Regions from separate parts of the Homo sapiens genome. Here region 2 is reported to be linked to region 1. The links are microRNA targets in miRTarBase. Many come from high-throughput screens and were not tested one by one. Region 1 holds a microRNA gene; the other region holds the end of a gene's coding sequence.
The links. Region 1 holds the annotated microRNA hsa-miR-208a-5p (GAGCUUUUGGCCCGGGUUAUAC, at 2,371-2,392, shown strand). A microRNA usually pairs through its seed, bases 2 to 8, with sites in the 3' UTR of a target mRNA and lowers its output. Matches are read on the target gene's strand: a 7mer-m8 pairs with bases 2 to 8, a 7mer-A1 pairs with bases 2 to 7 and ends in A, and an 8mer does both.

Region 2: the mRNA of BUD23 is a reported target of hsa-miR-208a-5p. Seed matches in the 3' UTR shown: 7mer-m8 at 3,584-3,590.

What each region holds. Positions count from the first base shown.
Region 1 is chr14:23,386,654-23,391,028 of GRCh38, reverse strand. It overlaps MIR208A (microRNA 208a), which reads left to right and starts at 2,363; the gene lies at 2,363-2,433. MYH6 (myosin heavy chain 6) reads left to right here. Exons shown (of 39, transcript NM_002471.4): 26 at 583-972; 27 at 1,310-1,436; 28 at 1,518-1,636; 29 at 1,974-2,170; 30 at 2,691-2,874; 31 at 3,106-3,271; 32 at 3,376-3,500. RefSeq lists enhancers at 878-1,481, 1,482-2,085, 4,135-4,375.
Region 2 is chr7:73,697,368-73,701,742 of GRCh38, reverse strand. BUD23 (BUD23 rRNA methyltransferase and ribosome maturation factor) reads right to left here. Exons shown (of 12, transcript NM_017528.5): 11 at 4,049-4,138; 12 at 3,531-3,911. The coding sequence ends at 3,857. STX1A (syntaxin 1A) reads left to right here. Exons shown (of 10, transcript NM_004603.4): 9 at 903-1,013; 10 at 1,259-2,533. The coding sequence ends at 1,336. Among named protein-coding and RNA genes, the nearest start is that of MIR4284, 12 kb to the left of the region's middle. RefSeq lists an enhancer at 1,867-2,368.

The sequences.
Region 1 (4,375 bases):
CTGGAAGGGAGCAATCATGTTGAAACCCAGCCCTGGGCATAAACACAGCAAGCCTGGGAGAGCAAGGAATATGGTTGATTGGACTTTGTGGTTAACTTGGAGAATTGCAAAGGTATCTGATTGTTTCGAGGCATGTTGTCACAAATATTTGTAAAATACAAGCACTCATTTTCCCGTCTTATGAATAGCGCAACAGAGCCTAGTGAATCTGGGGACTCTGAACTTCTTGATCTCACAGGATACCAGGATCCCCCTTCAACCACAGGTTCTCAGGATTTGGGGCTGCAGATGCTCACACTGGGTCTGAGATGCCCTTGGGAGCTTCAGCCAAATTCCTATTGATGGCCTATGCATTATAGGATGTTTAGTAGCATCCCTGGCCCCTACCCTCTAGATGCCAGTAGCAAGCCCCACCAAGACATGACAATCAGACATTGCCAACTGTTCCCTGGGGCACAAAATTGCCCCTAGTTGAGAACCACTGCTTGAGAGGAACCTAAGTTCCTGGTAGCTTTTCAGAGCCGGGGGGATTCCAGTGGAGGGGTCCAGGCGGTGGGTCTGAGCCCTTTGTGTCTGACCCAGGCACGCATCGAGGAGCTGGAGGAGGAGCTGGAGGCCGAGCGCACCGCCAGGGCTAAGGTGGAGAAGCTGCGCTCAGACCTGTCTCGGGAGCTGGAGGAGATCAGCGAGCGGCTGGAAGAGGCCGGCGGGGCCACGTCCGTGCAGATCGAGATGAACAAGAAGCGCGAGGCCGAGTTCCAGAAGATGCGGCGGGACCTGGAGGAGGCCACGCTGCAGCACGAGGCCACTGCCGCGGCCCTGCGCAAGAAGCACGCCGACAGCGTGGCCGAGCTGGGCGAGCAGATCGACAACCTGCAGCGGGTGAAGCAGAAGCTGGAGAAGGAGAAGAGCGAGTTCAAGCTGGAGCTGGATGACGTCACCTCCAACATGGAGCAGATCATCAAGGCCAAGGCAGGCTCTGCTCGGCCTCCCCTCGCCCTCTCCCCTGCACAGCGGAGCCTCCCCCATGCCTTCTCTCTCTGTCTGCCATCTCCCTTGTCATTCTCATTCTCTTCATCACCCTTTGGTCTCTCTTCCTGTCTCCCCTGCCCCTCTCTGGCTCTCCTCACCCTCTCTATCTCTTCATGTTCCTCCTTTCTTTAATTCAAGTCTCTCTTCAGACTGCGCCCTCCCACACCTTCTGTGTCCCCCTCCTGCCCTCTGGCATTCCCCATCTCTGACCCTCTCTTCCTTCCTCTGGTCGACTCAGCCCCTCCCACACTCACCCTTCCTGTCTTGCTTCCTGAAGGCAAACCTGGAGAAAGTGTCTCGGACGCTGGAGGACCAGGCCAATGAGTACCGCGTGAAGCTAGAAGAGGCCCAACGCTCCCTCAATGATTTCACCACCCAGCGAGCCAAGCTGCAGACCGAGAATGGTGGGTGCCCCTAACCAACCCCCTGCCTAGGGCAGGACATGACTTGTGAAATGGCCCACAAGCCCCTCATTTCACCTCCAGGAGAGTTGGCCCGGCAGCTAGAGGAAAAGGAGGCGCTAATCTCGCAGCTGACCCGGGGGAAGCTCTCTTATACCCAGCAAATGGAGGACCTCAAAAGGCAGCTGGAGGAGGAGGGCAAGGTGAGGCCCAGTGGGGAGGGTGGGCAGGCTTGATGGCAGCCCTGGGGCAATTCATCTCAGTGCCAGAAATGGAGCCTGGAGCTGGAAAGAGTCCTCTGCAAGGGAAAGACCCTCCAGTCTAGGTTCTGCCCTGCAGCTAAGCGTCATTTAATGCCTCTTTTCTTATTCGTAAGGGGATGGGGTGAGCAGACTGGGAAACTCCTCAAACAGTGAGGTGCCACATCAGCCCACATGGTGAATAAGGCTGGGCTTGGTTGAAGTACTACATAAGAAGAGAATCTAGAGAATGGGGCACAGGGAGTCCCTCCCACCTCCTGGTGCCCCCCCCCCTCCCCAGGCGAAGAACGCCCTGGCCCATGCACTGCAGTCGGCCCGGCATGACTGCGACCTGCTGCGGGAGCAGTACGAGGAGGAGACAGAGGCCAAGGCCGAGCTGCAGCGCGTCCTGTCCAAGGCCAACTCGGAGGTGGCCCAGTGGAGGACCAAGTATGAGACGGACGCCATTCAGCGGACTGAGGAGCTCGAAGAGGCCAAGTGAGCTCCAGATACCCCCTTAACCTGACTCTCAGAGAGGAAGGGGCGAGAGGACCTGGGGTGGGGACAGGCAAAGTGGTCATGAGACGGAAGTGGAAGAGACAGGAGGAACTCGGAGGGCAACAGAAGTGCTTGGAAGAAAGCCTGAACTCTTTGCTCTGTGAACTCTGGCTGGCCCTGACCCACTTCCTGTGACGGGCGAGCTTTTGGCCCGGGTTATACCTGATGCTCACGTATAAGACGAGCAAAAAGCTTGTTGGTCAGAGGAGCTACCGTCGATCAGCCTGTGTGGGGGGTGAGGGCAGGGGGCACTGACACCCAGATGCCACTGCAGGTAGGGAGGACGCCTGGGCAGCCCGTGCTGGCGGACTCTGTTCCAGGCATGAGCAGGCTCAGCTCCTGCTAGGCTGGACTTACGGTGTCTCAAGGAGATATAGGGAGGGGGTGGAAGGAGGTCCACCCAAGGCTCCAGTGTTGCCCAGTAGAGTCACACACACACCCTCCACCCTCACCTGGGCAGAAAGAAGCTGGCCCAGCGGCTGCAGGATGCCGAGGAGGCCGTGGAGGCTGTTAATGCCAAGTGCTCCTCACTGGAGAAGACCAAGCACCGGCTACAGAATGAGATAGAGGACTTGATGGTGGACGTAGAGCGCTCCAATGCTGCTGCTGCAGCCCTGGACAAGAAGCAGAGAAACTTTGACAAGGTGGACCATGGGCGGGGGCCGCAGCCAGCATGCAGGGCAAGGGGGCATGAGGGGTTCAGTGAGAGGCCAAAGGCAACCTCCTTGGAGGTGGAGGAGGAGGGCTAAGCCCAGGCTCGGGACCAGGGACAGATCTTGGACATGCGGCTGAGGCTGGGGGCTGGGGCACTGGGAAGCAGGAGGGCTGGGGAGCTAAGGCTGGGGGGCTGAAGAGTGAGCCTTGTCCCCGGGCAGATCCTGGCCGAGTGGAAGCAGAAGTATGAGGAGTCGCAGTCTGAGCTGGAGTCCTCACAGAAGGAGGCTCGCTCCCTCAGCACAGAGCTCTTCAAGCTCAAGAACGCCTACGAGGAGTCCCTGGAGCACCTAGAGACCTTCAAGCGGGAGAACAAGAACCTTCAGGGTGTGCTGGGGGTCCAAGAGGCCAGAGATGAGTTGGTGGGAGGGAGGGCCATGCAGGGGCAGGGGGAACATAGGCTTTGAGCTTTCTGGCCCTCTGGTCCCCAGAGGAAATCTCGGACCTTACTGAGCAGCTAGGAGAAGGAGGAAAGAATGTGCATGAGCTGGAGAAGGTCCGCAAACAGCTGGAGGTGGAGAAGCTGGAGCTGCAGTCAGCCCTGGAGGAGGCAGAGGTGAGGGCCGAGAACTCCCTGCACCCCATCCCTGTTCTGCCGCTGTCTCCCACTTCTCCCTCACCTGGGGGTGACCCTGACCCCAGGACAAAATCTATTCATTCCATATTCTTTGTTCAACATTATCTACCCACTATTCACTACCCATGACTGCCTCCAAAGCCAAGGTCTGCACAAAGGAAAATGTCAGTCTGATTAGAGGCCAAAGGTTTTGTTTCCCACCAGGTTTTAAAAGTTGGAATCTGGCCATAATAATAACCACTTAGACAGTGGGTAGGAGTGTGGGGTTCCAGAGTCAAACAGGCCTGAGTTGGAACACAGCTTGAGGACTTTCACTGCAGCGTTGGGCAAAATCTTTAATCTCTCTCTGCCTCAGTTTTCTCATCTGTAAAATGGAATTAACTGTACATACCTCATATGATTTTACACATGATTATTATAAAGATTAAATGAGGTAACACATTTAAGCACTTAATATATATTAGCTATTGTTACTCTTCATTTCTAAGCACCTGGGAATAGCCCTGAGTTTTCTGGGCTTCTAACTTTTCTCAGGAAAGGGTGAGGGACCTGGAAAACAAGATAAAATTTTGTATTTGTGGTTATAAAAATTCCTCCATTTTCTATAATACTTTAGACAGGTCAGGAATTTATGCAGTGTTAGTGCTGGAGGGTCTGGCAATTGTGAGGTCCAAACCCTTTTCTTGACAGGGGAAGCCCAGAGAGTCCAGCACTTTCTCCCCAATAGCACCGTGGTGGGCATGGGGTGCAGATCCCACCTCCCCATCTCTTCTCAGCTCTTCTTCTCTGGGCGATAGTCCTGGCTGACACCGTGTATCTTCTCATCCTCCCTCTCAACCCTGCCCTGTGCCCTG
Region 2 (4,375 bases), not on the chromosome of region 1:
GGCTGCCGCTGCCGCCATCTGGTGAGAAACAGACCATGGTGACGTGGACGCCAGTGAAGGCAACCGATGGACTTGGAGAGGGAGACACGCCCTAGGAGTCTTGTGGGGCAGTGTCATGGTCAGATTGGCCTCTGGGGGCAGCATGGGACCAGATCACAGGGCTCAAAAGGGCTGTGGGCTGGGCAGGGGGTTCTATTTTTTTTTTTTTCTTTTTCTTTTTTTGAGACGGAGTCTCACTCTGTCATCAGGCTGGAGTGCAGTGGCAGGATTTCAGTTCACTGCAACCTCTGCCTCCCAGGTTCAACCAGTTCTCCTGCCTCAGCCTCCTGAGTAGCTGAGACTACAGGTGCTCGCCACCACGCCCAGCTAATTTTTGTATTTTTAGTAGAGATGGGGTTTCACCATGTTGGCCAGGATGGTCTCGAACCTGACTTCAAGTTCTTAAAGACTGAAGACCCCAGACAGCAGACAGAGCTGGATGGAGCTGTCATGCCTGAGGATGGGGGTGTGGGCAGGCTCACCTGTGGCCACCTCAGGAGCTATGGCCAGGGCAGGACCAGACTCCAGCATACCCACTCCTGCTCCCACCTTCCTCTGCCTGGCACTGCCACATCTCTGACAGTGTTCTCTGCATGGTCCCCAACCCTCAGCTGAGACTGCATGGCCAGCTCCACCCCCAGGATTGCTGCTCTGCGGGGAAATGTGGGAGCTGCCTTGGGGAGCCTGCCTGGCCCTCTACACCCCACCCAGGGTACCTGGCCCAGGTGAGAAGCTGTACCCTAACCTCCTCACGCCCCCTTTTTGTCTCTAGCCTCAGGGTGCTTTCCTGAAGTCCTGCCCCGAGCCCCAACCCAACCCTGAGGAGGGGGCCCTCTGGAGCTCGGGTGCCCCCGGCCCCGCAGGGAGAGATGATTGACAGGATCGAGTACAATGTGGAACACGCGGTAGACTATGTGGAGAGGGCCGTGTCTGACACCAAGAAGGCCGTCAAGTACCAGAGCAAGGCGCGCCGGGTCAGTAGCCCAGCCCTGCCCAAGGCCATGCCCCAGCACCCATTAGGGACCCCCAACCATCCCACATCCCTCCCCATCCCACCTCTCTCCCTTCTCTCAGGAGCTCCCCATGACAGCCCCCTCCCAGGCCGTCACCTTCCCCTGCTTGGATCCCCCCCGACTGTCCAGTCCTCAGCCTTTGCCATAGTCCCACCCCACCTGCCGCCAACACTGTCTGAGGCCTCTCCTGCCCGCTTCCCATGCAGAAGAAAATCATGATCATCATCTGCTGTGTGATCCTGGGCATCGTCATCGCCTCCACTGTTGGGGGCATCTTCGCCTAGAAGCCACCCAAACTGCCACTCCACTCCAGGTGGGCCACTCCAAGGAGGCCCTGGCTGCTGCCACCTGGCTGGGCTGCCCTCCCAACCCCCGCCTCTGGCTCAGAGCACCCTCCCTCCCGGCCCCCATGCTCCCTTCTCTGCCATGGGCCCTCCGTCCCCGCCCCGTGTCGTGTGCATGATCTCTGTGAGTGTGCGTCTGTACGGGAAGAGGCAGAGGGAGGCAGCCAGCGGGGCGTGATGCAGTGTGCACAGCGAGGAGCAGACCCAGGCAGGGCCGCCAGGGTGACACAGGCCACCCTTCCTTGCCTTCAGTAACTCGGTGGGCCCAGGTTCTGCTCTTCCCTGGGGACCCTAACCTCGCCTCCAGCTGACCTGCCCTGTCCTCTCCAGCTGTCCCCACAAGCAGAGCCCTGAGGGGTGGGGACCAGCTGGCCACATGGTGCTGCTTTTCAGGTTAGGGGAGAGGTGGCCCTGAGGGACAGCCCAGCTCTGAGTCTCAGTCGCTGATCACTGCCAGGGAGGCTCAGGCTGCCATGGCTCCAGGCTCCCTCCCCTGCCTAGGGGCAAAGTCCATCGGGTCCTGGGCCTCAGCTTCCCTTCCCACATTCCTCCGGCCCCAGGAGCAACCCCTTGGGCTAGGTCTGACCCCAGGTGTCCCTCTGGAAGGGGCTGGCTGGTGCCCTATTTCCAGCCACCCCAGCAGCTAGGGAGGCAAAGCAGGCTGCAGTCAGTCCCTCAAGCCAGCGTTGCATGTTTGGGATGGTGGCTCCTGTTGTCTTGCGCTCTGGGAAGTCAGATGTCATTTCAGGCCTGCAGTCTCATCCTGCCCTTGCCATCCTCCCATCGATGTGCCACGTGGGTGTCACGTGTCCCAGATGCAGTATTCGGCAGCCAGCCGGGGAGGGCTACCTCCTCCTCCTCACCACCTTGGGGCTTCTCATGGGAAATGTGCCCCCGCCCCAGGACCCTCTCCCTTGTGGACAGGCAGGGAGATGCATGCGAGTGCATGCAGCAGGGGATGGGGCCGTGTCCGTGTGCCCCACCCTCCCTCGGCTTTACTCCTGCCCAGTGACTGTGACCACTGTCCGTGTTGCCTTCTTGAACAGCGATTCCCCCCAACCCCTTCACCAAAGGTCTTGGTACAACCAGCTGCCCATTTTGTGAAATTTTTATGTAGAATAAACATTTGTATCTGTACCAGGCCTCTGTTGTAGATTTCTTCCCCAGGTCTCCTGGGGGAAAACCTTAGGAGGGTTCTCACTATTGCCCAAGCTGGCCTCCCACCTCAGCCTCCCACAGAGCTGGGACCACAGGTTGTGCCTGGCCTGGCTGCTCTAGACTTCTTGCCATCTGCAGTGTCACAGTCTTAGAACCTGAGGATGAATGAATGTGGCACTAAGAGGAAGGGCTCAGAGGCGAGGATCCCAACTCAGCCTCAACCCCACCCTGGGCCTTCAACTTCCTCAGACCTGTCTCTGGCCGTGCAGTGGAAAACATCCAGGCCTTATTCCCTGAGAACAGGCCCAGAGGCCACTCTCAAGGCCTGGAATCTGACACCTGCAGGAAACCCCACTGCAGGGCTTAGATCCTCAGGCCCCAAGCCTCACCCCACTCCCAGACACCCAGCCCCTCGGGCCCCGGCACCCATTCCCTAATGTCTTAAGCTGCTGAACACCTAATCCAGCTCTGTACTGCAATGCCCAGGATCTTGCCCCTCTTCCCACATGGACCAAAAGGCTCAAGCAACCATTACACCTCCTCTCCTATCACAGCCAGCTGGACAGTCCCACACTACCCCAGAGCAGGACCTTCCCTTTCCAACCACTAGTGACGGGACAAGAGATCAGCCCAAGACATCCAAGCACTGGGCTGGTAGGCAGCTGACCGTGCAGCTCAGTGCCACAGTTCAAGCTGGGGCCGCTGGACTGGCAAGGCCTTCACAGGAAGGGAAAACGGACTGGCCAGCAGGCACCACGAACACATTTCATGTGGGCCCTCTTCCCAACTTTGCTTGGTGTGATTATGATACAGTTATATATAAGCCCTAAATTAAAGGACTCTGTGTTCCTTGCAAATGGAAAGAATGCTTTCATCTAAGTGTTTTAAATCTGATTCCTGCCTGGGGAGTCGAGCAGTAGCCCACCAGGAGGAACTGGAGTTTGGTGAGAATCACAGAGCTGGGAGATGCCAGAGCTCCACAAAAGGAAATTTTATTTCTTGCCTTTAAACAAAATAAGATGCTCTCAGAGCTTTTTTTTTTTTTTTTTTTCCTCCCTGGAAAGGAAGTTTCATTATGTTGCCCAGGCAGGTCTCAAACTCCTGGCCTCAAATGATCCTCCCACCTCAGCCTCCCAAGGTGCTGGGATTACAGGTGTGAGCCACCACGCCCGGCCCAGAGAACTTTTTTTTTACTGCAGAAAACATTTTTATAACTTTAGAACTTTTCTAAAATACTACTTTGTCAGCTGAACAATATAGAAAAGTGCAGAGGCAAGTGCCTTTCCAGAACCGCGTGGTGACTTAGAAGCGGGGCTTGCGCTTGCGGCCGGTGTACTGGGTGTCAGGTCTGACTTCCCTGTGCAGAAAAGGAATAGGACAGTCTCAGAAAAAAAAGATCAAAGCAGCCCTGGACCCTTCAAATAAAGGGAAGCTCTTCATGGCAATAGTCATCCACCCCCCACCCACCCTGCCAGCTCCCAGGCTGGCACTCACCTGCCCTGGCGCCTGTGCCGCTCCTTCTTCTCCAGCACCCATGCCCGACTCTTCCTCACCATTCCCCGCCTCGACATCCTTAATGGGAACCTGTGGCGGAGACACAGCTATGAGCTGATGGACAGCTGATGGATGGGGCTGCCCGACTGGCCCCCATGTGAATCCATGGCAAGCTTACCTCCGAGTCTGGTGGCCTCGGATGCCCCTTCTCTCAAATGCTCCACCTTCCCTATAACACAATTCCCCGCTCTGGACACCCTCCTTCCTGATAACATCCATCCGGGCCACAGAGGTTGTTGGGTGGGCAGAGGAGGAGAGAGCTGGGCC